3 separate regions of the Homo sapiens genome follow, and all the other regions are linked to region 1. The links come from fine-mapping of genetic effects on gene expression. A gene starts in region 1. Each other region holds a variant in brackets. All regions are shown on one strand. Distances are between the middles of the regions. Region 1 holds the start of AHCTF1 (AT-hook containing transcription factor 1). Region 2 overlaps ZNF670-ZNF695 (ZNF670-ZNF695 readthrough (NMD candidate)). Region 3 overlaps ZNF670-ZNF695 (ZNF670-ZNF695 readthrough (NMD candidate)).

What was found.
Region 2: its variant is fine-mapped to the expression of AHCTF1 in whole blood (TOPMed, PIP above 0.99).
Region 3: its variant is fine-mapped to the expression of AHCTF1 in whole blood (INTERVAL, PIP 0.99).

The regions. Positions count from the first base shown.
Region 1 is chr1:246,926,302-246,936,535 of GRCh38, reverse strand. AHCTF1 (AT-hook containing transcription factor 1) reads left to right here and starts at 4,588. Exons shown (of 36, transcript NM_001323342.2): 1 at 4,588-4,958. RefSeq lists enhancers at 4,206-4,255, 5,376-5,465 and a silencer at 4,936-5,035.
Region 2 is chr1:246,959,127-246,969,360 of GRCh38, reverse strand. It overlaps ZNF670-ZNF695 (ZNF670-ZNF695 readthrough (NMD candidate)), which reads left to right. Exons shown (of 7, transcript NR_037894.2): 6 at 1,569-1,666. It also overlaps a transcript of ZNF695 not described here. Among named protein-coding and RNA genes, the nearest start is that of AHCTF1, 32 kb to the right of the region's middle. RefSeq lists enhancers at 6,779-6,828, 6,879-7,038. The variant G/A (reference allele first, on the strand shown) is at 7,296.
Region 3 is chr1:246,946,066-246,956,299 of GRCh38, reverse strand. All of the region lies in intron 6 of ZNF670-ZNF695 (ZNF670-ZNF695 readthrough (NMD candidate)), which reads left to right. It also overlaps a transcript of ZNF695 not described here. Among named protein-coding and RNA genes, the nearest start is that of AHCTF1, 19 kb to the right of the region's middle. The variant C/T (reference allele first, on the strand shown) is at 3,957.

The DNA.
Region 1 (10,234 bases):
AAATAAGGTGTTTGGCCTAGAATATCTCTAAGGTTCCTTATAATCTAATATGGCATATTTTGCTTTGTTTTTTTTTTTTGCATATTTTGCTTTGAATGATGAATTATTATTTGCTCAGTCACTAGACAATGATTTTAGTATTTACGCTCTGGCCATTGTGCCATCACTGGACATAGAGTGGGGAACAGGAAAAATATGATTGTTCATTCACCTAGTTTATTGTCAATTGGAGAAATCAAGGGTGGGCACTGCTTGCTATAACCAATCAACTGCACAAAAATGATGAACATGTACCTGTTAGGACAAAGACAGTTTTCTCTGCTCGAGACAGATAAGCTCCATTTTTGTTGTTGTTAAAGTAATAAGGCTTTCCCTGTTACTTTGCAAAACAATTGGAGATCTAACTCAGAACGCTTCAATGAAGTCCTGAATTCCCTGAAATCAGATGGCCGCTAGTCACTCCCAGGATGCTGGAATGGTATTAAAATATTGCCTCTTGGCCGGGTGCAGTGGCTCATGCTGTAATCCCAGCACTTTGGGAGCCCACGGCGGGTGGATCACTTGAGGTCGGTAGTTCAAGACCAGCCTGGGCAACATGGTGAAACCCCATCTCTACTAGAAATACAAAAATTAGCCAGGAGTGGTGGCACAGGCCTGTAATCCCAATGGGAGGCTAAAGCAGGAGAATCGCTTGAACCCGGGAGTCGGAGGCTGCAGCGAGCTGAGATCATGCCACTGCACTGCACTCCAGCCTGGGTGATAGCGTGAGACTCCATCTCAAAAATCAATCAATAAATAAAATTTTTAAAAATATTGTCTCTTGAATCAAATATTCCAGATGGAAGCATGAGGATTTGTACCAGTTATTATCCATTTCTAGGCCTTTTACCAACATAACTTAGGACCATATAGGTGAAAACGGAATGAGGTTCTAAGGAAGGCATGTACTTCCCTTTCATCTTTACAACAGTTCTGCAAAGAAAGTGACATTATCTTTTCTTCTTAGCTGAGAAAACAGGCTCAGAGAGTGAAGTAATTTCATAAAAGTCATGTTGCTAGAAAGTAGTGAAACGCAGTAAACCCAAGTTTGTCTGGCTCCAAATGATTTCATTATTTTCACCACAACATGCTTCTTCCAGTGAGAGAAAGCTTTGAAGCCGTGTTTACCAGAGTCTGTTCTGTGAAGCACTAATAAGGCAAGATGTTACACAAGTGCAAATGGATGCCATGGTCAAGCAACTCTGGGGAATGCCAAGCATATTAAAGCCAGTGAAGTCTTACAGAAAATACATTTTTATTTTTATTTAATCAGCTTTTCCCCCAAACTCATTTGATTACCAAATCTAGATTTTTCTTCATTTAACACTTATTAACATCTCTTGAAACCAATTAAAATAATCTGGTATTTGCTTAGTTAAATGTCTGAAAGAAAGAAGAAAAAGGATTGAATGAGAGCTTTAAATTGGAAATTCAGTTTGCAAAGCAACTAAAATAAAAAACTAGCAGTTATGGGGGAAGCATTTTAAAAAGATACAGTCTGTGCTCCCAGTGCAGCTGGGAGATGGAGATGGTGGGTGGATGGAGAGAGTCAGAGGCAAAAAGGGAAACAGACATGAAACAATTCAGACAGCATATTTCGCTCAAGTTTTTAGTGATTCATGTGGGCTGAAGCTGAAGAAAAGATTGGGAAGAGGAAAGAGGCTTGAGCTGGCCCCTGAGGGATGTTAAGATTTACTCAGGGAGAGAAGAGGCTGGGAGACACTGAAAGAGAAAACAGGTTTGGAGAGTTAAAAAACAAAACAAAACAAAACAAAGCTCAGGAACTATATAGGGAAATAAAATACGACAGGTAGAGTTGGTCTAGATTATGGACAATTACACAGGCCAGGCCAGTGTCTCACGTCTGTAATTCCAGCACTTTGGAAGGCTGAGTCCAGCAGATCACTTGAGCCCACAAGTTTGAGACCAGCCTGGGTAACATGAAGAAACCCTGTCTCTACAAAAAATGCAAAAATTAGCTAGGAGTGGTGGTATGCACCTGTAGTCCCAGCTATTTGGGAGGCTGAGGTAGGAGAACTGCTTGAGCCCAGGAGGTCAAGGCTACAGTGACCCGAGATTGTGCCACTGCACTCCAGCCTGGGTAACAGAGCAAGACCCTGTCTCAAAATAAGTAAATAATAAAAATATAGACAATGATACAGAAATCATTCTGTTGATAATGATGGAAAGGATTAAAATCTGAAAGACTATGTAGACAGTCAATCTGGATAATATGTGCAATTAAAATAGATTTTTGAATTTCACAACTGGAAGGGCTCTTAGAGCAAAGTTAATAAATATCTGTCTAATGAATCAGTCAATCCCTTGCTCTACACATCTGATAACTGAAGCCCAGAGAGGTCACTTGATTTTCCTAATGTCACACAGCTCACTAGCAGCACACCTGAGTTGATAATTCATGTCTTCTGACTATCGAGAGGTACAGTACTCATGAACTGGGCATAAAACAGTGCCAAAGAAAGTGTAGAATATGGAGCATGTGACATAAATCAGCACATCCAACAGAGGGTGGTTTCTGTTTGAAGAGATCTCTTTAAAATAATTAAGACAACGAACCCCAAACCTCCTACTGCAAAAGCAGTACTCTTTTTAACTGTTTCTATCACAACTTGGTCCAATACCTTGTGCAAACAAACATGATATGTATGGAGGTTGCTGTTACTAAAGAAACAAAAATTACAGAAAAAAGAAAATTACATTTCCAAAAGGCAGCATTATCTCTGAAAGAATATGGGCCAGGCATGATATCCATGCCTGTAGTCCCAGCTGCTCGGGAAGCTGAGGTGGGAGGATAGCTTGAGCCTAGAAGTTGGAGGCAGCAGTGGCACTGATGAGGCCATAGTGCCTGCGAATAGCCATGCACTCCAGTCTGAGCAACACAGCAAGACACAGTCTCTACAAAAATAAAAATAGGCTGGGCATGGTGGCTCATGTCTGTAATCCCAGCACGTTGAGAGGCTGAGGCAGGAGGATCTCTTGAGCCCAGGAGTAGAGACCAGCTTGGGTAACACAGTGAGACAGTCTCTACAAAAAATAAAAAATAAGGCCGGGCGCGGTGGCTCACGCCTATAATCCCAGCACTTTGGGAGGCTGAGGCAGGTGGATCACGAGGTCAAGAGTTCAAGACCATCCTGGCCAACATGGTGAAACCCTGTCTCTACTAAAAATACAAAAATCAGCTGGGCATGGTGGCGCACACCTGTAGTCCTAGCTACTCTGGAGGCTGAGACAGGAGAACCTCTTGAACCTGGGAGGCGGAGGTTGCAGTGAGCCGAGATTGTGCCACTGCACTCCAGCCTGGTGACAGAGCGAGACTCCGTCTCAAATAAATAAATAAATAAATAAATAAATAAAATAAAAAAATTAATGGGACGTAGTGGCGCATGGTGGTCCATGCCCATAGTCCCAGCTACTTGGAGGGCTGAGGTAGGAGGATCATTTGAGCCCACGAGTTCGAGGCTGCTGTGAGCCTTGATTACACCACTGCACTCCAGCCTGGGCGACAGAGCGAGACACTGTCTCAAAAATAAAAAAATTTAAAAAGCACATATGAAAGGTAACAGAAAAGTAGAAACTTTCCTGATAAAAGAGCATCTTCTTAAAATCCCTACTCTACCTCATGTTATAATCCTTTTACTTACTACTTAGTATTAAGGATACGTTCCCTATCTGTTTGAAACATGTTTGGCGCTGGGATTTGCTTCAAAGGAAGATACTAACAAGAAATAAGAAATTCCACAATGAAAACCCGCGGTGACCAAAAAGATAACAGTGATTTGGGGTAAAATTTTGACTAAAAAGATTAGGCTAGGCTGCGCGAGCATTTTTGGCCATGAAAGCACAGGAGGATGCTAGAAAAAACAGCACCGTGGAAAAAGCGTTTCCCCAGAAGTCTGGGAGCCCACCTTTGGCATGAAAAGCGGGAGCACAGGTTGTAGTGAGCCAAGATCGTGCCACAGCACTCCAGCCTGGGCAACAGAGCAAGACTCCGTCTCCAAAAAAAAGAAAAAGAAAAAAAGAAAAGTGGGAGCACAGAACAGAAAATACAGAATGCAAGCTGCCAATTATGGGAGAAAGATTATCACTCGGCCCCCAGCTGGCAGGGCCACACGATTACGTGACAAGAGAGTCCGCCTGCAATCGCAGCAGGCGGCTGGCAGAGCCCGGCGCGACCCCCAGCGAAGACTACCACTCCCAACTGCGCACGGGGCGCGCCGCCGGGGCCGCCAGGGCGGCTTCACGCGCAAGGCACTGTGGGACTCGTAGTCTTTCTCCCCACCAGCTCCTCGGAGGCGGAGAGACCCGATTTTTTTGTAAATGATCCGCCCTTCCAGGCCCTGCTTCTCTTTCCTCCCTTTCCCTCCCACCTCCTTCTTTCACCGAGAGTTTGAAAATTCCCGCGGAGCCGGCGCTAGAGCGCGGAACCATCGCGAGAACTCTGGTCCCTGCAGCCGCGATCTCCCGCCGGTTCTCCCCTCCCTCTCCGCCCTTTCCTCTGCTCCCTCCCTTCCGGGGCGTGTGGAACTCGGTTTTGTCGGCGCAGGGTAATGCGCAGAGCGGGGCCGGCGCTGTCCGAGGCGAGCAGGCAGCGTTGCAAGGGGAAGGACCCAGAAGCGCGGCGGGAGCAGCGACTGCGTTTTAGCCGCTGAGCGGTCTGCAGGCCTACAGCCCGCGAAGGCACTCTCGGGGGCGTGTGGCTCTGAGGTGGCCGGGGAGGTCGCAGGCGGCGGCCGGAGCGCAGAGGAGCGGCTTCAGCCGGGCGGAGGGGTGTGAGCCCGGCCCGTGGCGGCCACGTCTCCCGGGAGATGCTGTGACGGACCCGCACGGGAGGAGCTCGCGCCTGGCCTGGCGACCCGGTGGACTCGGCCCGCGGCGGCGCGCTCACCCGCCCCGTTCAGGTAGGGGGAAGGGAGGGAGGGGGTTGGGCCCGCGCGGCGGAGGGCGGGTCGCGCGGCCTGGACCCGCGGCGGCGGCGGCGGCGGCGGCGGCGGCGGCGGGGCTTCTGCCCCGCGAGCGCCGGGCCTAGGCCGGGCGTGCGCGGGGCCAACGGATGGGGCTCGAGGGGGCGAGCGGTGGCGGTGGCGGGTACGGCAGGCTCGCGGGCGCCGGGCTTCGTTACATAATCTCGGACCGGAGGAGCGGCGGCACATGGCGGCGGAGCGGCGCTGGTGGTTCGCGTCCTGCGCCGGCAGTCGGGTCCCTTTACGGACGGCCGGGGCCGCGACCCTTTCCCACTGTTCTCCCACGCGATGGACTCGTTGGCGGGCCTTTCCCCGAGGGAAGCGGCCGGCGTGCTGAGCCTGTCCTGTGTTGGCGTGTGTTCCACATGCGCTTGGGCCTGGCCACAGTGAGTAGTCCTGGCGGGGAAGAAGTTGGACTCGGGGCTCAGCCGTGAGGTTCCAGCTCACCCGATTGGTCAGATCAAGGAGATTTAAAATAAAAGCACATCTTGGGGTGCTTTGCCTTCCTTTTTCCTACCTGGGAAACAGGACGGTTTCTTTTGCCACTGGTTGACTGTTTTGGTTTGGGTGTTTTGTTTTGAGAGATGGGGAAATTTTGTTCTCAAAGCTTACGAGGTTCATACTATCTGTGTGCAAAGTTTTATGAGATGAGCGTTATTTTTATTTCCAAATCGTCAGTTGTAGAAATTTTTGGAAGAACTGGGTTCTTCATAGAACAAAACGTAAATCCTTTGGGGAAATCCTAAACGATATTTATTCTCAGAATATCCTAAAGAACCTGTAGATTTTAAGAACTGTCTTTGGCTGGGCGCAGTGGCTCCTGTCTGTAATCCCAGCACTTTGAGAGGCTGAGGCGGGAGGATCGCTTGAACCCAGGAGTTTGAGACCAGCCTGAGCAACATGGCGAGACCCCCCCTTTTTTTTTTTTAAACTGTTTTTTTGTGAGCTTTCACTGATAGAGTCTCTTAGGAGAGAAGAAATTAGAGTGGTTTACTTATTTCGGAGGATTTGACCTGGGATGACAAGCCCAGTTAAGGTTAATACTTGAAGGGATGTTTTAAGTGTGCCAAGCGCTATGGGAAGTCTACGTTGTCTCTGTACTGTGATTTTTGGATCCTGATCCTTCAGTAACATACTACCAAGCTGTCACGAGTTTGCAAACAACAATAATTATCTTGAAAAAATTTTTAAAACATCATGTCAACCGGGAATTGGTGGCGCCTCTAGTCGCGCGCCTACTTGGGAGGCTGAGGCGGGGGGAACGTTTGAGCTTCAGCCTCAAACTGAGAGTTCGAGGGTTGCAGTGAGCTAGGATCGCGCCGCTGCACTCAGCCTGTGTGACAGAGCGAGAACCTGTTGCTAAAATAAAATAAAAAAGATCGTTATACATCAGTTTTGAGACTTTTGTTTTCTTTTTATGCTTCTCCTTTTTCATAGGTACAGATACATCTTTTTTTTTTTTTGAGACGGGGTCTTGCTCTGTTGCCCAGGCTGGAGTGCAGTGGCACAATCTTGGCTCACTGCAACCTCCGTCTCCCAGGTTCAAGCGATTCTCCTGCCTCAGCCTCCTGAGTAGCTGGGATTACAGGCGCACGCCACCACACCCGGCTAATTTTTGTATTTTTAGTAGAGACGGGGTTTCACCATATTGGCCAGGCTGGTCTTGAACTTCTGACCTCGTGATCCGCCCGCCTTGGCCTCCCAGAGTGCTGGGATTACAGGCGTGAGCCACCGCGCCCGGCTGGTACAGATATATTTTAAGAGGAAGCAAAACGTTGTGTCTTTCACGCCTACCTTTAATATTTTCAGGGACTTTTCTTTCTTCCCAGAATGAAGTGTAACTTCCCTCGGTTAGCTCAAAGGTCTCTACAATAAGTATATGCTACTGTCTATCCTCATATGTTAACAAATTTTATGCTTTTGCTATTCCAGAATCGTCATCAATCCTGGACTCATTCTGTGGAAGAGATGTTTCCACTCTGATGTTTCTTTGCTCATGTCCTTCATCCTGGAGTGCCATCTTTCCTTTTTTAAATACTCAAATTTCAGGTCCTCCTTCTAAATCCAATGTTTTCACTGTATTTTTATTTTTATTTTTATTTTTTTGAGACGGAGTCTCACTTTGTAGCCCAAGCTAGAGTGCAATGGCGTGATCTTGGCTCACTGCAACCTTCGCCTCCAGGGCTCAAGCGATTCTTGTGCCTCAGCCTCCCGAGTAGCTGGGACTACAGGAACGCGCCGCCACACTCGGCTAATTTTTTGTATTTTAGTAGAGACGGGGTTTCACCATGTTGCCCAGGGTGATCTCGAACTCCTGAGCTCAGACGATCTGCCCACCTCGGCCAACCAAAGTGCTGGGATTACAGGCGTGAACCACCGCACCCAGCCCACTGTACTCTTTTATTTCCCCTTATCCCACTTTTTTACTGGGATCTCACAGCATATGTACCTCTATTGTAGTAGCATTTATTCTTTGTGTCTGATACTCTGATAATTGACTATATATCTCCTTTTCTAGATTGTAAACTCCTTAAAGTCAGGAAGAAGGTTATCTTCTTGACCTTGCATTCCTTTACTAACACGGTGTTTTAAAAGTAGTTTGTGATTTTAAAATGTTTGAATTAAGTTGGTAAGAAATTTCTGAAAGGCTTGAAGTTTCTGGGTCCACTGGTAGTTTACATTTAAATGACAATTCGTCTTTTTATTAGTCAAAAAGAAAAAAAGTACCATTGCATACAAAGTGGTTTATAGAAATGTTTGCTTGGTACATGTTGCAATATAATTGTTGAACTAGATTAGAGTTCCATTTTCTGTGGTGGAATTCAGTTACTGCAGGAATTTGTGTATTTCACACAGAAAACTGATTTATAGTATTCTGTTTTTAGTATCTGGCCTAGTAATTTTAAGAATTTTGTTTTGTTTAATACTGAACCAGTGTATACTTAAAAATAATTGGGCCCAATCTTGAGTTTTAAAAAATTGATTTTATTGTTTAACATGCCTATTTCTTGTCTCTGCTAGTATCCTAATAATATCCTGCTATACAGTATCCTGTTATCCTAATTTATTACATTTAGGACCTGTTAGTCCAAAGGCACTGTGACCTTGTCGAATGCCCAGGAATAAGATTTGGTGATTTTTGCCTTTTAGGAATTCATAGTGTAGTGGAGAAGACAGGCAAGCAGAAGTAATTTTTTTTTTTTTTTTTTTTTGAGACGGAGTCTCGCTCTGTCGCCCAGGCTACAGTGCAGTGGCGCGATGTCGGCTCACTGCCAGGTCCGCCTCCCGGGTTCATGCCATTCTCCTGCCTCAGCCTCCCCAGTAGCTGGGACTACAGGTGCCCACCACCACGCCCGGCTAATTTTTTTTGTATTTTTAGTAGAGATGGGGTTTCACCGTGTTAGCCAGGATGGTCTCGATCTCCTGACCTCGTGATCCACCTGCCTTGGGATTACAGGCGTGAGCCACCGCACCCGGCCGAACAGTATTTAATTTAATTAATTAATTAATTTTTTGGTGGCGGAGTCTTGCTCTGTCGCCAGGCTGGAGTGCAGTGGCGTGATCTTGGCTTATTGCAACCTCTGCCTCCCAGGTTCAAGCGATTCTCCTGCCTCAGCCTCCCAAGTAGCTGGGACTACAGCGCGCTACCGCGCCCAGCTAATTTTTGTATTTTTAGTAGAGACAGGGTTTCACCATGTTGGCCAGGATGGTCTGGGTCTCTTGACCTTGTGATCCGCCAGCCTCGGCCTCCCAAAGTACTGGGATTACAGGCTTGAGCTACCGCGCCCGGCCATGAACAGTATCTTCATTCAAAGCCAGTAGAACGTTCCTGCTCTGCCTATCTAGCCTTTGGAAAGGAATTGAAACTTAGTAAATTACTTTTTATAGGTTGCCAGTGCTGGCATGTCATAAAAGGCTGGGATTCTGTTTAATTTTGTACAGTACTGAACGTAGGTGTTTCATGTGTGTTTGTGTTTTCATATACCTTTATATGAGATATTCTTTCTAATAATATAGTTTTTCTTTTTGAGACAGTCAGGCTGTGTTGCTGAGGCTGGAGTGTAGTGGCACCATCTCAGCTCACAGCTACCTCCACCTCCCCGGTTCAAGCGATTCCCATGCCTCAGCTTCCCAAGTAGTCGGGATGACAAGCGTATGCAGCCGTGGCTGGCTGCTACATTTCTTGTTTTTAGTAGAGACGGGGTTTCACCATGTTGGCCAGACTGGTCTCTAACCAACTCCTGACCTCAGCCATTCTCCCGCCTTGGCCTCCCAAAGTGCTGAGATGACAGGTGTGAGCCACAGTGCCTGGCCTATTTCTTTCTTTTTTTTTTTTTGAGACAGAGTCTCGCTCTGTCGCCCAGGCTGGAGTGCAGTGGCACGATCTTGGCTCACTGCAAGCTCCGCCTCCCGGGTTCACGCCATTCTCCCTCCTCAGCCTCCCGGGTACCTGGGACTACAGGTTCCCGTCACCACGCCCTGCTAATTTTGTTTCTGTATTTTTAGTAGAGACGGGATTTCACCTTGTTAGCCAGGATGGTCTCGATCTCCTGACCTCGTGATCCGCCCGCCTTAGCCTCCCAAAGTGCTGGGATTACAGGCGTGTGCCACCGCGGCCCGGCCATACACTTTTGTTTGTTTTGAGACTTGTTTGTTTTGAAACGGGGTTTCGCTCTTGTTGCCCAGGCTGGAGTGCAATGGTGCAGTGTCGGCTGACTGCAATCTCCGCCTCCCGGGTTCAAGTGATTCTCCTGCCTCAGCCTCCCAAAGTAGCTGGGATTATAGGCATGCGCCACCACACCTGGTTAGTTTTCTGTATTTAGTAGAGACGGGATTTCACCCTGTTAGTGAGGCTGGTCTTGAACTCCTGACCTCAGGTGATCCACCCACCTCAGCTTTCCGAAGTGCTGGGATGACAGGTGTGAGCCACCGCGCCTGGCCCCTATTTCTAATAATAGAGTGTTTCGATGTTCTCTGTAGTGTGCTTAAATTGGAAAAGTCTTAAAACCAATTTTGCCCTATAGATTCAAAGGCTGTTAAATTTGAAAAACTTTATTAAACATTTTTTTGAACTCCTTTGTGCTAGGCACCATGATGAAGTCTGGAGAAATAAGTACTCCTCTTTTCTAGAAGCTTGGATATGAAAGGGAGGAAGACAGAATATAGTAAAGCACAATGTTACATGTATTATTAAGTGCTAGAACCTGGATTCA
Region 2 (10,234 bases), 33 kb before region 1:
TTGCTATGCTTTAGCAAAGAGACTAGTGGCATTGTGCCCCTGCTATAGGGATCTGTTGAACTTTGAACTTGAGAGAGATGATTTAGGGTATCTGGCAGAAAATATTTCTAAGTAGCAAAGCATTCAAGATATGGCCTGGCTCCTTCTAACAGTGTATGCTCATATTTCTGAGGAAAGAGATTATCTGAAACTGGAACTTACATTTAAAAGGGAAATGGAGTATTAAAGTTTGGAAATGTGCAGCCTAGCCATGTATTAGAAAAGAAAAAACCATTTTCTGGGGAGGAATTCAACCTAGCTGCAAAAATTTGTGTAAGTAAAGAGGAGCCGTATGTTAACAGCCAAGACAATGGGAAAAATGCCCCCAAGACATTTCAGAGACTTTCGTGGCAGCCCCTCTCATCACAGGCCTGGAGGCCTAGGAGGGAAAAACAGTTTTGTGGGTCAGGCTTAGGGCCCTGCTATTCTGTGCAGCCTTGGGACCCTGTTCCCTGTGCTTTAGCTGCTCCAGCTCCAGCCATGGCTAAAAGGACTCCAGATATGTTTCAGGTTGCTGCTCCAGAGGGTATAAGACACAAGCCTTGGAGGCTTCCAGATGGTGTTAAGCCTGCAGGTGCTCAGAGGGCAAGAGTTGAGGCTTGGGAGCCTCCATTCTTTCAGATTTCTGAGGATGTATGGAAACAACTGGATATCCAGGCAGAAATTTGCTTCAGGGGCGGAGCCCTTGTGGAGAACCTCTACTAGGGTACTGTGGAGGGGAAATATGGGGTTGAAGTCCCCACAAAGAGTCTCCACTGGGGCACTGCCAAGTGGAGCTGTGAGAAGAGGGCCACTGTCCTCCACACCCCAGAATGGTAGCTCCATCAACAGTTTGCACTGTGTGCTTGGAAAAGCCACAGGCACTCAACACCAGCCTGTGAGAGCGGCCATGGGGCACTAAGCCCTGCAGAGCCGCCAGAAGCAGAGCTGTCCAAGACCTTGGGAGCCTACCCCTTGCATCAGTGTGGCCTGGATGTTAGACATGGAATCAAAGGATATTATTTTGGAGCTCTAAGATTTAATGACTGCCCTGCTGGGTTTCGGACTTGCATGGGGCCTGTAACCCCTTTGTTTTGGCCAATGTCTCCCTTTTGGAACAGGAACATTTACCCAATGCCTGTACCCTTATTGTATCCTAGATGTAACTAACTTGCTTTTGATTTTACAGGCTCATAGGCAGAAGGGACTGCCTTATCTCAGATGAAACTTTGGACTTGGACTTTTGAGTTAATGCTGAAATGAGTTAAGACTTTGGGAGACTGTTTGGAAAGCATAATTGTGTTTTGAAATGTGAGGACATGATATTTGGGATGGGCCAGGAGTGGAATGATATGGTTTGGCTCTGTGTCCCCACCCAAATTTCATGTCAAATTGTAATCTTCAATGTTGGAGGAGGGTCCTGGTGGGAAGGTAATTGGATCATGGGGGCAGACTTCTCCTTTGCTGTTCTCATGATGAGTGAGTTCTCATGATACTTGATTGTTTAAAAGTGTATAGCATTTCCCCCTTTGCTCTCTCTCTCCTGCCAGCCATGTGAAGATGTGCTTGCTTCCCCTTTGCCTTCTGCCATGATTCTAAGTTTCCTGAGGCCTCCCCAGAAGCAGAAGCATGTAAAGCCCACAGAACCGTGAGTTGATTAAATCTCTTTTCTTTATAAATTACCCAGTCTCAGGTGGTTCTTTATAGCAATGCAAGAATGGATTAATACACAAGGCCAGGTCAAAACTCCTGATCTTCCCCTGAAACCTGCCCCTGCAAGTCTTCCCCTATCTCAGCTAGTGGCAACTTCATCCTTAGAGTTTCTCAGACCCAAAACCTTGACATCATCCTTGTCACCCCTTTTTCTCTTTTATCCCCCATTCATGCCATTAGGAGATCCTATCTGACCTTTAAGCTATATCCAGAATTCAACTATGTCTTGCCACCTCTACTGCTCCCACCCTTGTCCAGGCCACCAGCATTTCTAGCTTGGGGTTTTGCAACAGTCTTCTAACAGCTGTCCTTGCCTCTACCCTTGTCTTCTTACAATCTATTCTCAATCCAGTGGCTTTTTAATATATAATCCTTTTAATATGTAACGTTTAGGCTGGGTGTGGTGGCTCACACCTGTAATCCCAGCACTTTGGGAGGCCGAGGCAGGCGGATCACCTGAGGTCGGGAGTTCGAGACCAGCCTGACCAACATGGAGAAACCCCGTCTCTACTAAAAATACAAAATTAGCCAGGCATGGTGGCGCATGCCTGTAATCCCAGCTGCTGGGGAGGCTGAGGCAGGAGAATTCCTTGAACCTGGGAGGCGGAGGTTGTGGTGAGCCAAGATTGCGCCATTGCACTCCAGCCTGGGCGACAAGAGTGAAACTCTGTCTCAAAAAATAAAAACAACAAAAAAAGTAACATTTAATATGATTTATTTAATATGTAACTCCTCTGTTCAAACCCTCCAATAACTCCTCATCTCACTATCTCACTTAGAGTAAAACCTTGCAGTGGCTCACAGGACCTCCCCACAACTTTCTCATTTTGACTTTTTTTTCCTTTAAAAATAGGGTCTTGCTCTTTGCCCAGGCTAGAGTGCAGTGATGTGATCATAGCTCACTGTAAACTTGAACTCCCAGGGTCAAGCGATCTCTCACCTTAGCCTCTTGGGTAGCTAGTACTACAAGAATGTGCCCCCATACCTAGCTGATTAGAAAAAAGAATTGTAGAGACAGGTTCATGCTATGTTGCCCAGGCTGGTCTTGAACTCCTGGACACAAGTGATCCTCCTGCCTCAGCCTCCCAAAGTGCTGGGATTACAGGTGTGACTCACTGTGCCGTCTCACTTTGAATTTTTTTTGGTGGGGGGATGGAGTCTTGCTCTGTCGCCCAGGCTGGAGTGCAATGGCGCAATCTTGGCCTACTGCAACCTCCACCTCTGAGGTTCAAGTAATTCTCCTGCCTCAGCCTCCCAAGTAGCTGGGATTACAGGTACCTGCCACCATGTCCAGCTAATATTTAGTAGAGATGGGGTTTCAACATGTTGGCCTTGTTGGTCTCAAACTCCTGACCTCAAGTGATGCGCCTGCCTTGGCCTCCCAATGTGCTGAGATTATAGGTGTGAGCCACCGCGCCCGACCTCACTTTGACTTTTATTCTCTCACTTGCTCACTGTCCTCAGGCCATCTGGCCTTTTTCTACTTCCTTCACAGTTGAAGTATGCCTCTGCCCCAGGCTCTTTGCCCTTATTCTTAACTTTTCTCTTAATATTTTCCTCCAAATACTCACATGACTTGCTCCTTCACTTTCTTCAAGTCTTTGCTCAAATGTCCCCTCTCACTGAGGCCTCCCTGACTACCTGTGATATTGTGATTTATAAAAAGATATATATATAAAATATATATATATTTTTAATTTTCTGGGTTAGTTTTCTCTTGCTTATAACAGAATACCTGAAACAAGGTATATAAACAAAAAGGAATTTATTTTTTACAGTTATGGAGGCTGAGAAGTCCAAGGTTGAGAGGCTGCTCCTGGTGAGGGCCTTCTTGCTGTGGGGACTCTGCAGAATTTTTTTTCTTTTTCTTTCTTCGTTTTTTGCACTGTCACCCAGGCTGGTGGCACGATCTCAGCTCGTATGGTCGTACGGTGGAACGATCTCAGCTCATTGCACCCTCCACCTCCCGGGTTCAAGCGATTCTCCTGCATCAGCCTCCTGAGTAGCTGGGGCTACAGGCACACACGACCACACCTGGCTAATTTTTGTATTTTTAGTAGAGACAGGGTTTTGCCGTGTTGGCCAGGCTGGTCTTGAACTCCTGACCTTAGGCGATCGGCCTGCCTCAGCCTTCCAAAGTACTGGGATTACAGGCGTGAGCCACCATGCCCTGCCAACTCTGCAGAATCTTGAGCAGCGCAGGAAATCACATGGCAAATGGGCCGAGCGTGCTAGCTCAGGTCTGTCTTGCTCTTCTTTTTTTTTTTTTTTTTGAGACAGAGTCTCTCTCTGTCACCCAGGCTGGAGTGCAGTGGCGCTATCTCGGCTCACTGCAAGCTCCGCCTCCCGGGTTCACGCCATTCTCCTGCCTCAGACTCCCGAGTAGCTGGGACTACAGGCGCCCGCCACCATGCCCAGCTAATGTTTTATAGTTTTAGTAGAGACGGGGTTAGCCAGGATGGTCTCCACCTTCTGACCTCGTGATCTGCCCACCTGGGCCTCCCAAAGTGCTGGGATTACAGGCGTGAACCACCGTGCCCGGCCTGTCTTGCTCTTCTTGTAGAGTCATCAGTCTGATTCCCATAATAAACCATTAATCTGTTAACCCATGGATTAATCCATGAGCAGACTAATCCATTCATGAGGGCAGAGCCCCACGACCCAATCACCCCATAAAGTTCCCCCATCTTGCAGTACTGCCACATTGGGGATTAAGTTTTTATTTTCTAATTTATTTTTTATTAAATTTTTTTTTGAGACAGAGTCTCACTCACTCTGTTGCACAGGCTGGAGTGCAGTGCCGCGATCTCAGCTCACTGCAACCTCCACCTCCTGGGTGCAAGTGATTCTCATGCCTCAGCTTCCTGAGTAGCTGGGATTACAGGCATATGCCACCATGCCCGGATAATTTTTGTATTTTTAGTAGAGATGAGGTCTCACCATGCTGGCCAGGCTGGTCTTGAACTCCTGACCTCAAGTGATCCACCTGCCTTGGCCTCCCAAATTGCTGGGATTATAGGCATGGGCCACTGGGCCCAGCCAGGGATTAAGTTTCAACATGAGTTTCTGAAGAGACAAACATTCAAACCATAGCAATATTTGTCTCCAGTCCTTTGGCATAGAGTTCCTAAAACCCTTTAATTTCCTGAGTAATAGGGGCGTTAGGAGAATCTTTTGTTCTGATATTTGGTCTTTGATCTTGGTTCCTGACACAGAGATCCTGATCACTTGGAATTTCCTGGGTAATAGTAGCGTCTTTTTTTCTCATGGGGCACCTCTTGGTGGGCTCCTGGATAGGGCTGGTCACCAGAAAGACCAAGCCATGATTAGAAACTTGGAACTTTCAGCTCAGCTCCCCATCCTCCATGAAGGGGAGAGGGGCGGAAACCTGAGTTAGTAATTGGTGGTGCCTATGTGATGAAGCCTCCATGAAAATCCCTGAACTGTGGGGTTTGGAGAGCTTCCGGGCTGCTGAACACGCGGAGGTGCTGGAAGGGCGATGCACCCTGGAGGGGGCGTGGAAGCCACCTGCCCCCTCCCCCATACCTGGCCCAATGCATCTCTCCCATCTGGCTGTCCATCTGTATCCTTTGTAATATCCTTCCTAATAAACAGGTGAACATAAATAAAGTGGTTTTCTGAGTTCTGTGATCCATCCTAGCAAATTATCAAATCCAAGGAGGGCACCATGGGAACTCCAGTGTACAGCCTGTCAGTCAGGAACACGGGTCACAGCCTGGGGCTTGTGACTGGCATCTAAAGTAGGGGCAGTCTTGTGGGACTAAGTCCTTAAGCTGTGCAATCTGACTCTAACTCCAGGTACATAGTGTCAGGATTGAGTTAAATTGTAGATCACCCAGCTGGTGTTGGAGAATTGGTCGGTGTGGGGAAAACTCCACACACATTTTAGCAACCGGAGAGGAAGTATTCTCTGACAAGTATGACTGTAGAAGAGAAAGCAGTTGGTTTTTCCTATTATACACAACTCCATTTAAAATCGCAATAACCCCCGCACCTGCTCTGGCACTGCCAGCCTTCTTCCCTGCCGGATTATTCTCCATAGCACTTGTCTTGTCATCTAGCGTAGAATTTACTTGTTTGTTCGCTTCATTGTTCCTCCCCTCCCACCACCATCACCACCACTGGAAGGGAAGCTCTACAAGTCAGGAAGTTTGCCTGTTTTTTATTTTTCTTTTTATTATGTTCTGTAAAATCAGAGTTTCACTCTGTTACCTAGGCTGGTCTCCAGTTCCTAGCCTCAAGTGATCCTCCTGCCTCAGCCTCCCAAAGTACTAGGATTACAGGCATGAGCCGCTGCACATGGCCAGTTTTGTCTGTTTGATTCACTGATGCCCAGCACCTAGATTAGTGGCTGGCACACAGTCACCTTTAGTAAACGTGTCATGAATAAATGAATGCAGAAGCAGTGGCAGGGGTGAGCTAGTTAGTGAAGGATGGCCACTTCCGGATGAGGGAATAGCATGGAAAAGCACTAAAGGCAGAAGGAGTGTGACATGATCGGAAATGGACATTAGATGAATATAGCTGGAATGAGGGGCATGGAGAAAGGTGGCAAGAGACAGGAGCCGGTTTGCCTGCTAAGGTGTTTGGACTTCAGCCTAAAGGCAGCGAGGAATCGTTGAAAGGTTTCAAGGCCGGGCATGGTGGCTCACACCTGTAATCCCAGCACTTTGGGAGGCCCAGATGGGCGGATCACAAGGTCAGGAGATCAAGACCATCCCGGTTATCTACTAAAAATACAAAAAAAAATTAGCCGGGCGTGGTGGCGGGTGCCTGTAGTCCCAACTACTCGGGAGGCTGAGGCAGGAGAATGGCGTGAACCTGGGAGGTGGAGCTTGCAGTGAGCTGAGATCGTGCCACTGTACTGCAGCCTGGGTGACAGAGCGAGACTCCGTCTCAAAAAAAAAAAAAAGAAAGGTTTCAAGCTGGCAGAAGGGGGTCAGAGAGGTGATGAAATCTGATGTTAGTAATTTAGAAAGATCACTCTTGCAGAAAACATCAGCTTAGAGGTGAAGAGGCCAGCCCCACGGAAGCCACTTGCTTCTCATTTTAGTAACTCTGATGATCAATGATGAGGACCTGAATTAAGTCAGTGGCCAGAGCCATTGAGAGGAAAGGGGATGGATTTGAGAGGTATTTAAGAAGTAAAATCTTTATGACGTGGTAAACAAATCGTCTGTGAGGTATGAGGCAGAGCAAGAGGCTAGGACGACCACCAGACTTCTTGCTTGGGTGGCTTGAGGGATGTGATGCCTTTCCCTGAACTCTGGTGTAAAGCAGTCGTGCTGCCTTGCTAGCCATATTCCTGTGACTGGGCCATGAGGGCCCAGTGCTGATGGGGCACAAAGCCCAAGCCATTCGTCAGTGTTCCCTACGTGTGCAAGCCCAGCTGGTGACAGGAAGTCTGACCTGAGCCCCACTAGTCAGCAGCCTCTCCTTCATTAGGAAAGACCAAGCCTAGCATATAAACATTGCTTTAATTTGTTAGCCAGGGCTTTGTGGCTTCCTGCCGCCTTGACTGCCCTATGAAGCAACCAGAGAAG[G/A]AAATTACACATGGATTTCCTTAAAGAGAAGTTCAGATTTCTCTAAGGTTATAAAGATACAGGCAGCAGTGATCGTCACCACCACCGTCTGCCATGACAACTCATATGTCTGCAAAGCACAGTGCCATTGAGGTGCCTCTCTATGCCTCTGCGTTCTTGAGATCTTTTCCCTTAACTGAATGATGAAGGGAGTGATGAAGAGGGCCCTTTGCTAAGCAGCCTGGTGAACACTGAAGTCAATGATCACAGGAGTCAGATCACCCTTACTACTAAGTTCAAGCTATCTGAACTCCCTTCCAGAATGGGAATGAGGCAGGCTGCAGGATGTGGAGCCCGAGGGCAGCACCCAAGAAAATAGTCTAAAGCATCTTTTGCCTATCTCAGGGACCAGTGGGTGACAATTGGGTCTGAAGCAAAATACTATAAGCAGAGGTAGCAAGAGGGAGTAGGTGAATTCAGTAGAGTGAATGGGAAGCATCCTGGAAAGATTCCCTGAGTGTCTTGGGAAGGAGAAGCAGAGCCTTCCTGTACGTATGAAGAGAGCTGTGAAAGCAACACTCTTAAACTCAAGCAGCTTATAGAACAATGGCCCTGCAGTTTATGGAATGGAGGTGGCAGGGAGTAGCAATAATGGGGCTTAGGATTTAAGAACAGGCACTGTGGGAGGCAGAAGATTTGCATTCATTCATTTTAAAAGACTTTATCGAGTATCTACGTGCACATGAAATAATAGGTAGCAATATAAGATTGTCACATGAACAAATAAACAGCTCATTATAGGCTGGTGCAGCTGGAGGTGGCTTTGAATGCATATATAACTTCTAATGAAGTGTTATGCCTAATTAGTGGAGTAACGTATATAATTTTTGAACTGATGATGCTAAAGATGAGAAGTTTGAGTTACATATGCATTATTTGATGTTAAGACTTATACCCCATGATTTTGAAATAGCTAAGTTTCTTGGTCATCAACTGACCCTACTATGAATTTCAATGAGTGAATCAAGTCAGGAAGCCCACCTTCATAGTGAACATGTTTTAAATGATAATTGAAATAGAAACATTTTTGAGCTCAAAAGACCTTCATAGATTCTTTACTTTTACAGCTCTCTCTACCATTCTTTGTGTTGTTTTTTGTTTTTTGTTTGTTTGTTTGAGACAGGGTCTCCACCCAGGCTGGAGTGCAGTGGCGTGATCTCAACCAGTCCAGGCTCAGGTGATCCTCCCACCTCAGACTCCCAAGTAGCTGGGACTGCAGGTGAGCACCACCATGCCCAGCTAATTTTTATATTTTTCTAGAGTTTTGCCATGTTGCCCAGGCTGCTCGCGAACTCCTGGGCTCAAGGGATCCACCGGCCTCAGCCTCCCAAAGTGCTGGGATTACAGGTGTGAGCCACCATGCCTGGCCTGTACCATTCTTTGAAGGATAGATAGCTATCTTGAACTATGGAGAAATGATCTGAATTTGTAGACAGAAATGAAGAAAAGAACTTGTCTTGCATGGCCAAGTAGGTCTTGTATAACCTTATCACTCTGAATGGAAACAAATGGTTCTCTGGGGCATATATATAGAGAGAGAACATAGGTAGTATTCTATACTGCTACACAATACCAACTGTTTTTACTTTTACATATATGACAAACAGCATTGGAGAAACTAGCAAACCACTCCAAAAGAAACCACACTCTATATAATATAAATTTTTCCCCAAACTGCAATCATATCAGCCTGCTTGAGTACAGCAAAATGCATCTAGGTTACTGGGAAATCTTAGGGTGGCAGTGTTGTTCACTCTAAATATATTAGTGTTCCAGATAAAACTGTGGTTCCCTTTTTGCTGATATGTTTACAATTTCTTTGAATAGAAAAGAGGAAGTATTACAATATGAGAAAGTTTCCTTAAATAATGACGTGGCAAAATGTGTGAAATCTGAGAGGAAAAGCAAGCAGTTAAATTATTCATGAAGCTTCTCAACTGGGTTTTTCAATGAGATTGGTTTGTTTCAAATAATACATTGTGAAATATGTAATCTAACATACTTAGAGGAAATGAAGTTCAGTGAAATTGACTGTTGCATGAAGATAGCAGCTTACCAAAATACATAACCATAGTTATGAAAACTCATACATTGCTACGGAACTAATGGATCAGAAACACTGGAGAGTTTTTGCTTCTGAGGAACAGTCCACTTTCACCGCCTATCTTCAGAACCGCCACGGAGAGGGAGAACTAAGAACATCTAGCTGTTAATTTCCTGCATCATTGGTGCAGAATGTGGCACATTGTAAGAAAAAGTGACAAGCTCAATAGTCTAGGTTCTAAAAATATGCCCATTTTGGGCCAGGCACGGTGGCTCACACCTGTAATCCCAGCACTTTGGGAGGCTGAGGCTGGTGGATCACGAGGTCAGGAGTTCGAGACCAGCCTGGCCAAGATAGTGAAACCCCCATCTCTACTAAAAATACAAAAATTAGCCGGGTATGGTGGCGCTCGCCTGTAGTCCCAGCTACTTGGGAGGCTGAGGCAGGAGAATTGCTTGAACCCAGGAGGTGGAGGTTGCAGTGAGCCGAGACTGTGCCACTGCACTCCAGCCTGGGCAACAGAGTGAGACTCTGTCTCAAAACAAAAACAAAAAAAATGCCCATTTTGGGTTCTAGAATAAGCAGATAATGTGTTTTCAACATTTAAATGCTTCTTTCAGAAAAGAGATTTTATATATATATATATATATATATATATATATATATATATATTTTTTTTTTTTTTTTTTTTTTTTTTTTTGAGACAGGGTCTCACTCTGTCATCCAGGCTGGAGTGAGTCCTGTGGTGAGATCATACCTCACTGCAGTTTCAAACTCCTGGGCTCAAGCAATCCTCCTGCCTCAGTCTCCCAAGTAGCTGGGACTACAGGTACATGCCCGGCTAATTTTTAAATTT
Region 3 (10,234 bases), 20 kb before region 1:
AATGATCCAATCGGCCGGGCACAGTAGCTCATGCTTGTAATCCCAGCACTTTGGGAGGCCGAGGCTGGTCGATCACGAGGTCAGGAGTTCAAGACCAGCCTGGCCAACTTGGTGAAACCCCATCTCTACTAAAAATGCAAAAAAATTAGCCGGGACTGGTGGCCGAAGCCTGTAATCTCAGCTACTTGGGAGGCTGAGGCAGAGAACTGCTTGAACCCAGGAGGTGGAGGTTGCAGTGAGCCGAGATCATGCCACTGTACTCTAGCCTGGGTTACAGAGCAAGACTCTGTCTTAAAAAAAAAAAAAAAAAAAAATCCAATCCAAACTAATATCTGGCATGTGGGTATCTTTGGTTAATGTCCTCATCTGGCTCCCGTGCCTCCGTACCTAAATCTGTCAAGTAAGGGGTTAGTGATGAGACCGTTGTCTACCCAGGGAGTTCTTGTGAGCATCATATTCACTTTCTTCAGCTGGGACTCACTGAGCACCTTCTGTGTGCTGGACATTGTCCAGAAGACAGTAGTACTCTTAGGAGCCTACATTCTAGAGAGATGGTAGAAAAGAACGGACTTTGAAAAGTTAACATCGCTAGGTAAATATAGGGCGTTATCATTTTAGGCTAAAGGATTGAAACAAATCTTGGGGAAAAAGCCTCCTTTGTACAAAAGAAAATGGATTTAGATTAAAATTAATTAGTTCTGTTCTGTGTAGGTGTTTGTTTACAAGCTCAATGAAGAGATCAGCAATACTGAGTAGAATGATAATTTTAGAGTTTAGAGTATATGAGAACACTGCGGGAGAGCTTCTACTCTTAATTAAATAAAATTACTTATACACATTTTGTCACATAATACAGTTAAGCACTGCATAACAGTTTCAGTCAATGATGGACCTCATAGACGACAGTGATCCCCTAAGGTTACAATAGAGCTGAAAAATTTCTATCACAAATACTTACCATTGTGTGATGATTTCCTTACACTATTCAGTACAGTAACATGCTGTACAGGTTTGTAGCCTAGGAGCAATAGGCCTGTATTGGTCTATTTTCATACTGCTATGAAGAAATACCCAAGACTGGGTAATTTTTAAAGAAAAAGAGGTTTAATGGATCCAGTTTCACATGGCTGGGGAGGCCTCACAATCGTGGTGGAAGGTGAAGGAGGAGCAAAGGCACATCTTCATGGTGGCAGGCAAGAAAGCACGTGCAGACTTATTCACTGTCGTGAGAACTGTATGGGAAAAACTCCCCCTATGATTCAATTACCTCCCACCAGGTCCCTCCCATGACACGTGGGGATTATGGGAGCTACAATTCAAGATGAGATTTGGATGAGATTTGGGTGGGGACACAGCCAAACCATATCAAGGCCTTACCTGATAGCCTAGGTGTATAGTAGGCTATACTATATAGATTTGTGTAAGTACACTCAATGATTTTCTCAGAATGTATCCTGAGATGACTGTATGACTGTATTAAATTTTTATTTTCTCAGTTATTATTTTCCTAAAAACTTAGTGAGCAAGAAAACCCTATAAGAATATAGAGATAGCAAGTCAGAGTTTCGAGCTGGAAGTGGCCTGAGAGATCGTCTAATCCAGATTCCACATTTTTACAGATGATCTGATCAGTGATCATTTTACAGGAATTTGCATGAAACTTAAGGCTCTAGACACACATGGTTTCCATATATAGAAGCCTGATTCCAAATCCTGTACATTAGACAAGACAATCAGAATCTTGTGTTATCCTGATTTTTGTTCTTCATCTTCCAGTTACATGGGTTTTCTTGTGAGAGCTGAAATAATAGTATCACCTTTGGGGAACGGTGACTGCCAGTTTTGGATCAATCTTAGGCCACTGGAAGGTTGGTGGATCTTCTCCAGCAATTCGGGCTGAACTCAAGCAAAGCTGAGTCTAAGATCAGTTTGGACCCTTTCCCCTGGAACAGCTGGCAGGCATTGCCTGTTCCTGTCCTTGGCTTTCAACTGCTGGACAACATGTTTGGGGAGTGTGTGCCAATATTTGGGTTTTTATTCTTCTGGTTTAACAGTTGTTAGTGCCGTTGGCTCTCAGGGAAATTCAGGACAATCTCCTTCTGTAGCTTTAAGGTTGGCCTGATTGGCAAGACAGTTGAGGACAAACTGAAGTCATTCGTTCATTCATGTGCCAGTGTCCCTGTGCTCAGAAACAGTTGTTTTAAGGATGGCAAAATGGAAGACTTGAGGATTTATGATAATACTGAATGGCTATCCTCTAGGGCACTGTTGAGTCTTAGCAGAGTCCCAAGCTCTACACTTACCCTGAGTTTTTAGGCTTCTTTGTTTTTCGGGTTTCTTTTTTTTTTTTTTTTTGCTTGTTTGTTTGTTTGTTTTGAGACAGTCTCACTCTGTCGCCCAGGCTGGAGTGCAGTGGCGTGATCTCAGCTCACTGCAACCTTCATCTCCTGGGTTCAAGTGATTCTCCTGCCTCAGCCTCCTGAGTAGCTGGGATTACAGGTGCCTGCCACTATGCCCAGCTAATTTTTGTATTTTTAGTAGTAATTTTGTATTTTTACCACGTTGGTCAGGCTGGTTTTGAACTCCTGACCTCAGGTGACCCACCTACCTTGTCCTCTCAAAGTGCTGGGATACAGGCGTGAGCCACTACGCAGGGCCCATTTCTTTGTTGTTTTTTTGTTTGTTTTTGAGATGGAGTCTTGCTCTGTCACCCAGAGCTAGAGTGCAGTGGTGCGATCTTGGCTCACTGCAACCTCTGCCTCCCGGGTTCAAACGATTCTCCTGCCTCAGCCTCCCGAGTAGCTGGGACTACAGGCGTGTGCCACCACGCCTGGCTAATTTTTTATATTTTTTTTACTAGATGCGGGGTATCACCATGTTAGCCAGGATGGTCTAGGTCGCCTAACCTCGTGATCCGCCCGCCTCGGCCTCCTAAAGTGCTGGGATTACAGGCGTGGCCCACTTTGTTTTTATTACTGAGGTTATTCTGTAGGTTTTCTGAAAATAAGCAATCAGCATCTAGGTCCAAATTTACAATTTGTAATGACATTCCAAAATTCATCAATGAATAAAACAATAGCTAGGAATGTCATGTTAATTATTTAAATACGTTGGAATCTGCCAATGTTCCCTTAAGCCTCCCTCCAAAGGAGGCCTGAAGTTGAGCGTATGACAAGAAAATATCTAGTAGAGTAGAACAAACTTAGTATTACACCGAAAGCCTAGGGAAGTATTACAGTCCAGCCATTGGGAACCTCAGAGGATTGTGGGGTGGACATGCCCTTCTAAATTGTGGCTCAAGTAGGGTCACATCCTTTCCTAGGTTTCCTTCATTGTGGCTGAGACTGGCAATAATTTCTTTTTTAAAACAAAATTTATACAGATAAGGCCTCACTATGTTGCCCAGGCTGGTCTTGAACTCTTGAACTCCTGGGCTTAAGTGATCCTCCTGCCTCAGCCTCCCAAAGTGCTGGGATTACAGATGTGAGCCACTGCACCTGGCCAAAAATCAATAGTTTCTGAAAAGAAGTTGCTGAATACTGTTGAGGAATAAAAGATGAATTAAATATGGAGAATAAAGGAAGCATAACACCAGCATGCTGGAATGCACCTGTAGTCCCAGCTACCCAGGAGGCTGAGGAGGGAGGATCACTTGAGCCCAGGAGTTCAAGCTTGCAGTAAGCTGTGATTGCACCACTGTACTCCAGCCTGGGCAACAGAGTGAGACCCTGCCTCAAAAAAAAAAAAAAAGAAGAAGAAGAAGCATAACATTATTTATTCTAGTCATTCATTCAACAAATATTCATTGAATACCTAATATGTGCTGGAGATATGAACTGTGAACAAAACTTTATAGAAAGCTTACAGTTTTTAATATCCTTTTTCTGATTAAAGAGGAAAACAACTTGCAAACTGCAAGGAGACACAAAATAAATAAAATGTTTAAATCACCTGTG[C/T]AAAATACAAAGGACACTAAAGAAAATTTGAAATTATCATCTGTGGTCTCTGTTTTCATAGAGCTTCCACTCTGGTGGTAGAAGTGGTACTTGGGGGCTGGACACAGTGGCTCACGCCTATAATCCCAGCACTTTGGGAGGCCGAGGCAGGCAGATCACTTGAGGCTAGGAGTTCGAGACCAGCCTGGGCAACAAGGCAAAATCCTGTCTCTACTAAAAATACAAAAATTAGCCAGATGTGGTAACATACGACTGTAGTCCCAGCTACTCAGGAGGCTGAGGTGGGAGAATCGCCTGAGCCTGGGAGGTCAAAGCTGCCATGAGCCAAGATCACACCACTGCCCTCCAGCATGTGCGACAGAGCGAGACCCTGTCTCAAAAATATATAGTGGTACTTGGGAAGCCAGACAGTAAACAAAGATGAACTGGTGCTGTGAAGAAAAAGCAAGGTAAGAGGACAAAGAGCGGGGGGAGAAGGTGCACTCTAGGTAGGGTGGTCAGGGAAACCTCTTTGACAAAGCCTATGGGGCTCATTCTATCCCTTTCTAGTCCCAAAGGGCTGGCCCAGCTGTGCCAGCACCTGGCTTACCAGGTCTCAGCAGTTCCCACAGGAAGGATCTTCCACACAGAAGCTGGCTTTCCTGACAATTTGGATCGTTGTAGCTAAGGACCAGGGCCTCTGTGGTTGACCTGAGACTTGCCTCTTTGTTCTAGTTTCTGGTCTAGGAGCGTGTAATAGTCTCCTAAGGCTGCTATAACAAAACACCACAAATGGTGTGCCTTCAAACATCGGAAATGTATTATCTCAGTTCTGGAGGCTCAAAGTCTGAAATCAAGGTGTCAGCAGGGCCTGACTTCTGCCAAGGCCTCTAGGGAAGAATCCTTCCTTGCCTCGCCCAGCTTCTGGTAGCCCCAGACATTCCTTGGCTTGTGGCAACATCACTCCAACCTCCACCACCTTCGACGTGGCCATCTCCCCTCCGTGTCTGTTTTCCCTTCTGATTGTATGAGGACCCACCCTATTCCAGCATGACGACTTAATTAATTGCACTTGCAGTGCCTCTATTTCCGAAAAAGGTCACATTCTGAGATACTGGGGGTAGGACTTCAGCATACCTTTTTGGGGAACACAGTTCAGCGCATAACAGAGACCAAGAGTCCAGGCCCAAGGGCTAGGGTGATTTTTATAATGATGACATAATGACACATACTGAGGGTGTCTCGGTGCCTCCATTTCAGACCAACTATATGACAACACTTAAACTGAGTAAAAAGCACAATATTCCTACAATATGAATTGCACTCATTCTGTAACAAAAGGGACATGAAGTCATACCTTTGTTTTATTACTAACTGTATATTGTTTGATAGTAAACAAGTTGACATGACTTTGGAGGAACAGGGTATACCTGTTTGATATTTTTCAATTTGGAGTGGTCATAAGAATAGCTACTGTTTTACAAGTTTACTCATTTAATTTTCACAGTCATCCTAGGAGGATGAAACTACTGTCATTTTGCATTTTACAAATGAAGAAACCGAGACAGAGTGGTCAAGTACCTTGTCCAAAGCTGCTCAACTAGGAAGAGACAGAGCCAGGAGAGCAATGAAATGTTAATAGCTTTACAAATCCCTGTAATTGTCATTTGTTTCTATATTGGGTGGATTTTTTTTTTTTTTTTTTTTTTTTTTTGAAACGGAGTTTCGCTCTGTTGCCCTGGCTGGAGTGCAGTGACGAAATCTCTACTCACTGCAACCTCTGCCTCCCGGGTTCAAGAAATTCTCCTGCCTCAGCCTCCCGAGTAGCTGGGAATACAGGAGCGTGCCACCACGCCCAGCTAATTTTTTATGTTTTTAGTAGAAATGAAATTTCACCGTGTTAGCCAGGCTGGTCTCAAACTCCTGACCTCAGGTGATCCGCCCACCTTGGCCTCCCAAAGTGCTGGGATTAGAGGCGTGAGCCACCACCCCTGGCCTGGGTGGATTATTTTTAAAGGATTATATATAATCAAAAAGAATGGCAAGTCTGAATCTTTTCAGTAATTATTTTTAAACCATTTGAGAGGCCTTCCTAGTTGTATATTCAAGCATAGTCCTTGGTCATAAGCACACACCAATTTTGTCTTTCTCCCAAAAGGTCACGAATTATGAAACTAAGCAAAAGCAGGAGGCAACCAGATAAAAGTGGGGAAACATATTCTCCTTTTAATCCGTAGGCTCTTTGGTGAGTTACATCAGGAACTCATGACCTCCTTTGGCTTTCAGTAACTGAAGCCTAGTATATGACTTTAGTACAATAAGATTTTATTTCGTAAAATGAGGCACATAGCCACTTTAAAAATAAAGACACAAATATCTCTTCTGTGGCATAAGATAATAAAAATATTACTTAAGCCGTAAATCTGAAGCCGAATTAATTCTGTATACATTTTCCTGCTACAGAATGTCACTTTTATACGATTATATTTAAAGACACATACAAAATTGTTAGTATGTAATTGATGGTTATACTATATAAAAGAAAAGTAATTAGTCTTTTCCATTTGTTTGCAAAGTAAAAAAAATTATATCTCAAAAAGTCACACTGACCACAAACTCAATAACAAGAAGGCGTGGGGAAGTAAGGGACCTTTGATGAGGTGGAAAGATCAGTCACTGTTGGGAACCTGTAAGAATAAGAACATGCAGCTCAGTCAGGAAGGAAACCCCAGGGTTCAAGAGATAGAGCTCTTTTTTTTTTTTTCTTTTTTTTTGAGACAGGGTCTTGCTCTGTCGCCTAGGCTGGAGTGCAGTAGCATGATCTCGGCTCACTGCAACCTCCACCTCCTGGGTTCAAGCGAGTCTCCTGCCTCAGCCCCCCAAGTAGCTGGGACTAAAGGCATGTGCCAACATGCCCGACTAGTTTTTGTCTTTTTAGTAGAGACGGGGTTTCGCCATGTTGGCCAGGCTGATCTTGAACTCCTGACCTCAGATGAGCTGCCTGCCTCGGCCGCCCAAAGTGTGGGGGTTACAACTGTGAGCTACCAGGCCCGGCCCAAGAGATAGAGCTCTTTAGGAGGAGATACTAGTCTCACTAGATCCAACATAAATGGATTGAACCAGAGCTAAAAATTCCACCTGCCTCTCACAGAATTAATTTTAAAAGAAAATACCATCATATGGTATTCCTGTTTTCATTTTTACCAGCAGGGTCCTTCTGTTTCATTACTCCAATCTTTAATTCTTTTCTGGAGTTCTGGAGTTGCTGTTAGCATTAGAAAAGTTTTGCATGTGATAGCTGTTTCCTTAAATATCATGCAAATATTCTTGAAAGCATCCTCAATGCTGTTGAAGTGCAAAAAAGGAAACTAATATTCATCAGACACCTACTAAATATCTGGCAGTATTCTAGGTATTGTACATAGGGTATGTAATTTCGTTCTCAGAACAGCTCTGTGAGGTGGGCGCTATTATTATTCCAGTTTACAGATGAGGGAATAGATGCTTAGGGAGAGGCAAGGCTTAGGGTCTTCAGAGCAATGAGGCGAATGGCAGGGTATAAAGCCCTTAGCCTCTTACCTCTCTTGTCTTCTATGAGCCTGTTGCTGGTTATAAACTTGCTTGAAAAGTTTGCTCTTAGTGCTAAATTGTGCAACTCAGACACACTAAAACAACTATTTATTGTACACACATCGTGCCAGACACTTTTCATGCAACACCATTAATTTAATCTCTACAGTGGCAGCCCTGTGAAGTTAGTATTATTTTCCAATTTTATTGCCAAGGAACCTGGGACAGAATGTAAATCAAGGTACTGTTTCCTTCATTGAGAAAGTCTGACTTTGGAAAAAAAGTCAGCCAAGTTAAGTAGTGTGTTGAGTGGCGTGGCTCATTTTATTTTCTGGTGCAAGCCCCTTATCTCCTCGCAGCCTCGTACAGACAGTTTGGGATCCACACTTGGAGTGGCATTGGCTTAGAAAAGGTCAACTACAGCCAGGCGTGGTGGCTCACACCTGTAATCCCAGCACTTTGGGAGGCTGAGGAGGGTGGACCATTTGAGGTCAGGAGTTCAAGACCAGCCTGGCCAACATGGTGAAACCTCATCTCTACTAAAAATACAAAAATTAGCCAGGCGTGGTGGTGAGTGCCTGTAATCCCAGCTACTCAGGAGGCCGAGGCAGGAGAGTTGCTTGAGCCTGGGAAGTAGAGGTTGCAGTCAGCCAAGATCACGCCACTGCATTCCAGTCTGAGTGACAGGGTAAGATCCTGTCTCAAAAAAGAAAAGAAAAAGAAAAGGTCAACGACGTCACTCATCGCCTCACAGGTAATGAGTGTGGAGACAGAATTCCAAGCAAACTGTGCTCTTTCCCAATACCACATTATCCTTCCAGTATTCAAGGAATGAAATCATGGCCTCAGCAAACAACTCTGCAGAATTTTCTCCTGCCACAGGGCTTTCCTTGTCCCGTTCCTTGCAATAATTTTGCAGCATGTATATTATATTAGAAAAACAATAGCTACTTAAATGTTCCATTAGAATTATAGAAGGCTGTGATACTGGTACATGGTAATTCATGGAGGTGAGCACCAGAAATTAAAGTAAGACATAAGATTGTCCTCTGAAAATAAAACAAGTGATGTCTGTACCCATTATGGATAGAATTATCCATCCGTGGGATTAAATCAAGAGACTGTGAATAAACGTGTGGTTGAGATGCATGGAAACGCCCGATATACCACTCACAGTGTCCCAGAAACAATGCCAGGGAGAAAAGCCTGATTGTCGCTTCATCAGCAAAAACCCAAATCTGTTGTACTCTGCCCTGTGTGGAATGACCTTGTGCTTAGAATGGCAGTAGTGCGGGAAAGGAAGTCGGAGACCCAGAGTTGGCTGTGTTGATCTAGAACAGACTGTTCTCTGTTGAGAGGCAATTGTGAGTCACCAGGCTTCCCAAACCTTCAAAACAATCCCCACAAGCCATGTACAGTGGTGCATGCCAATAGTCCCGGCTTCTCAAGAGGCTGAAGCAGGGGGATTGTTTGAGCCCAGGAGTGTGAGGCTATGGTGCACACTATATGACAGGCATGACAGTGCCTGTGAACGGCCACTGCACTCCAGCCTGGGCGACAAAGGGAGGGTCTGTCTCTAAAAAAAAAACCACCCCCCCAAAAAAAATAAAAAACCCTATCACCCCATTTACTCTTTGATTTTTTTTTTTTTTTTTTTGACGGAGTCTCGCTTTGTCGCCCAGGCTGGAGTGCAGTGGCCCGATCTCAGCTCACTGCAAGCTCCACCTCCCGAGTTCATGCCATTCTCCTGCCTCAGCCTCCGGAGTAGCTGGAACTACAGGCGCCCGCCACCACGCCCGGCTAATTTTTGTATTTTTTGTAGAGACGGGGTTTCACTGCATTAACCAGGATGGTCTTGATCTCCTGACCTCGTGATCTGCCTGCCTTGGCCTTCCAAAGTGCTGGGATTACAGGCGTGTGCCACCGCGCACAGCCTACTCTTTGATTTCATGTTCACCAAGCCATATTTTGATTACTCGGTTTCCCACACATCTCACTATCTGAAGAGAGGATTCTCTGGATCAGGCCTACAGGAATCCCAGTTAAAGCAAAGAAATATCCACTATTATCAATCAGTAAGTTAGAATTTTGGTTTCTAGATACACTTCTTAGGATTGTGGTTCCCACAAGTCAGTCTCCTTGAGACAGATGAGCTCTAGGAGTCCTGGCATGACCAAGTTTTCTCCAAGAGCAAGACTGGAGCCAGGTTTGTGGTGCTGTCACCGGGAGAGGGCCCGCCTGGCTGCCAGCCAGATGCCATCTCGCTCATCACCCCTCCTTTCAACCTTCACAAATGAGTGCAATTGTTGGCTACATAAAATGCCAGGAAATAAGTAAAAGTCCGAGAGGGTATGAAAATTTATCAGAAGGCTAAAAATGAGTAAGAAATCAGACCGCATAAGAATTGAGAACATAATAGGGACCACGTGGTTCAGAAAAGTGGCAAGGCAAGAACAGGCAAAGGCTTTGGAAGAGAATGAAAGTACAGTCACGTTGTAGGGAGAAATTTTCATGGTGTAGATAGAAGACGCTCTGTCATATAGTGATAGGTAGACTCAAGAAAAATCAGAAAGCAATCAAGATGGGATGGGACGTGGGATTAGGAAGGTCAAAGGACTAAAATGCAGCGGCGGGAGGATGATAGCCTCAGCCGGTGTGGCACGGGGAGCATTTTCATTGCACATCCTTCTGGGGAAAGACAATGAGCTAAAAAATAAAAGCTCAAACCT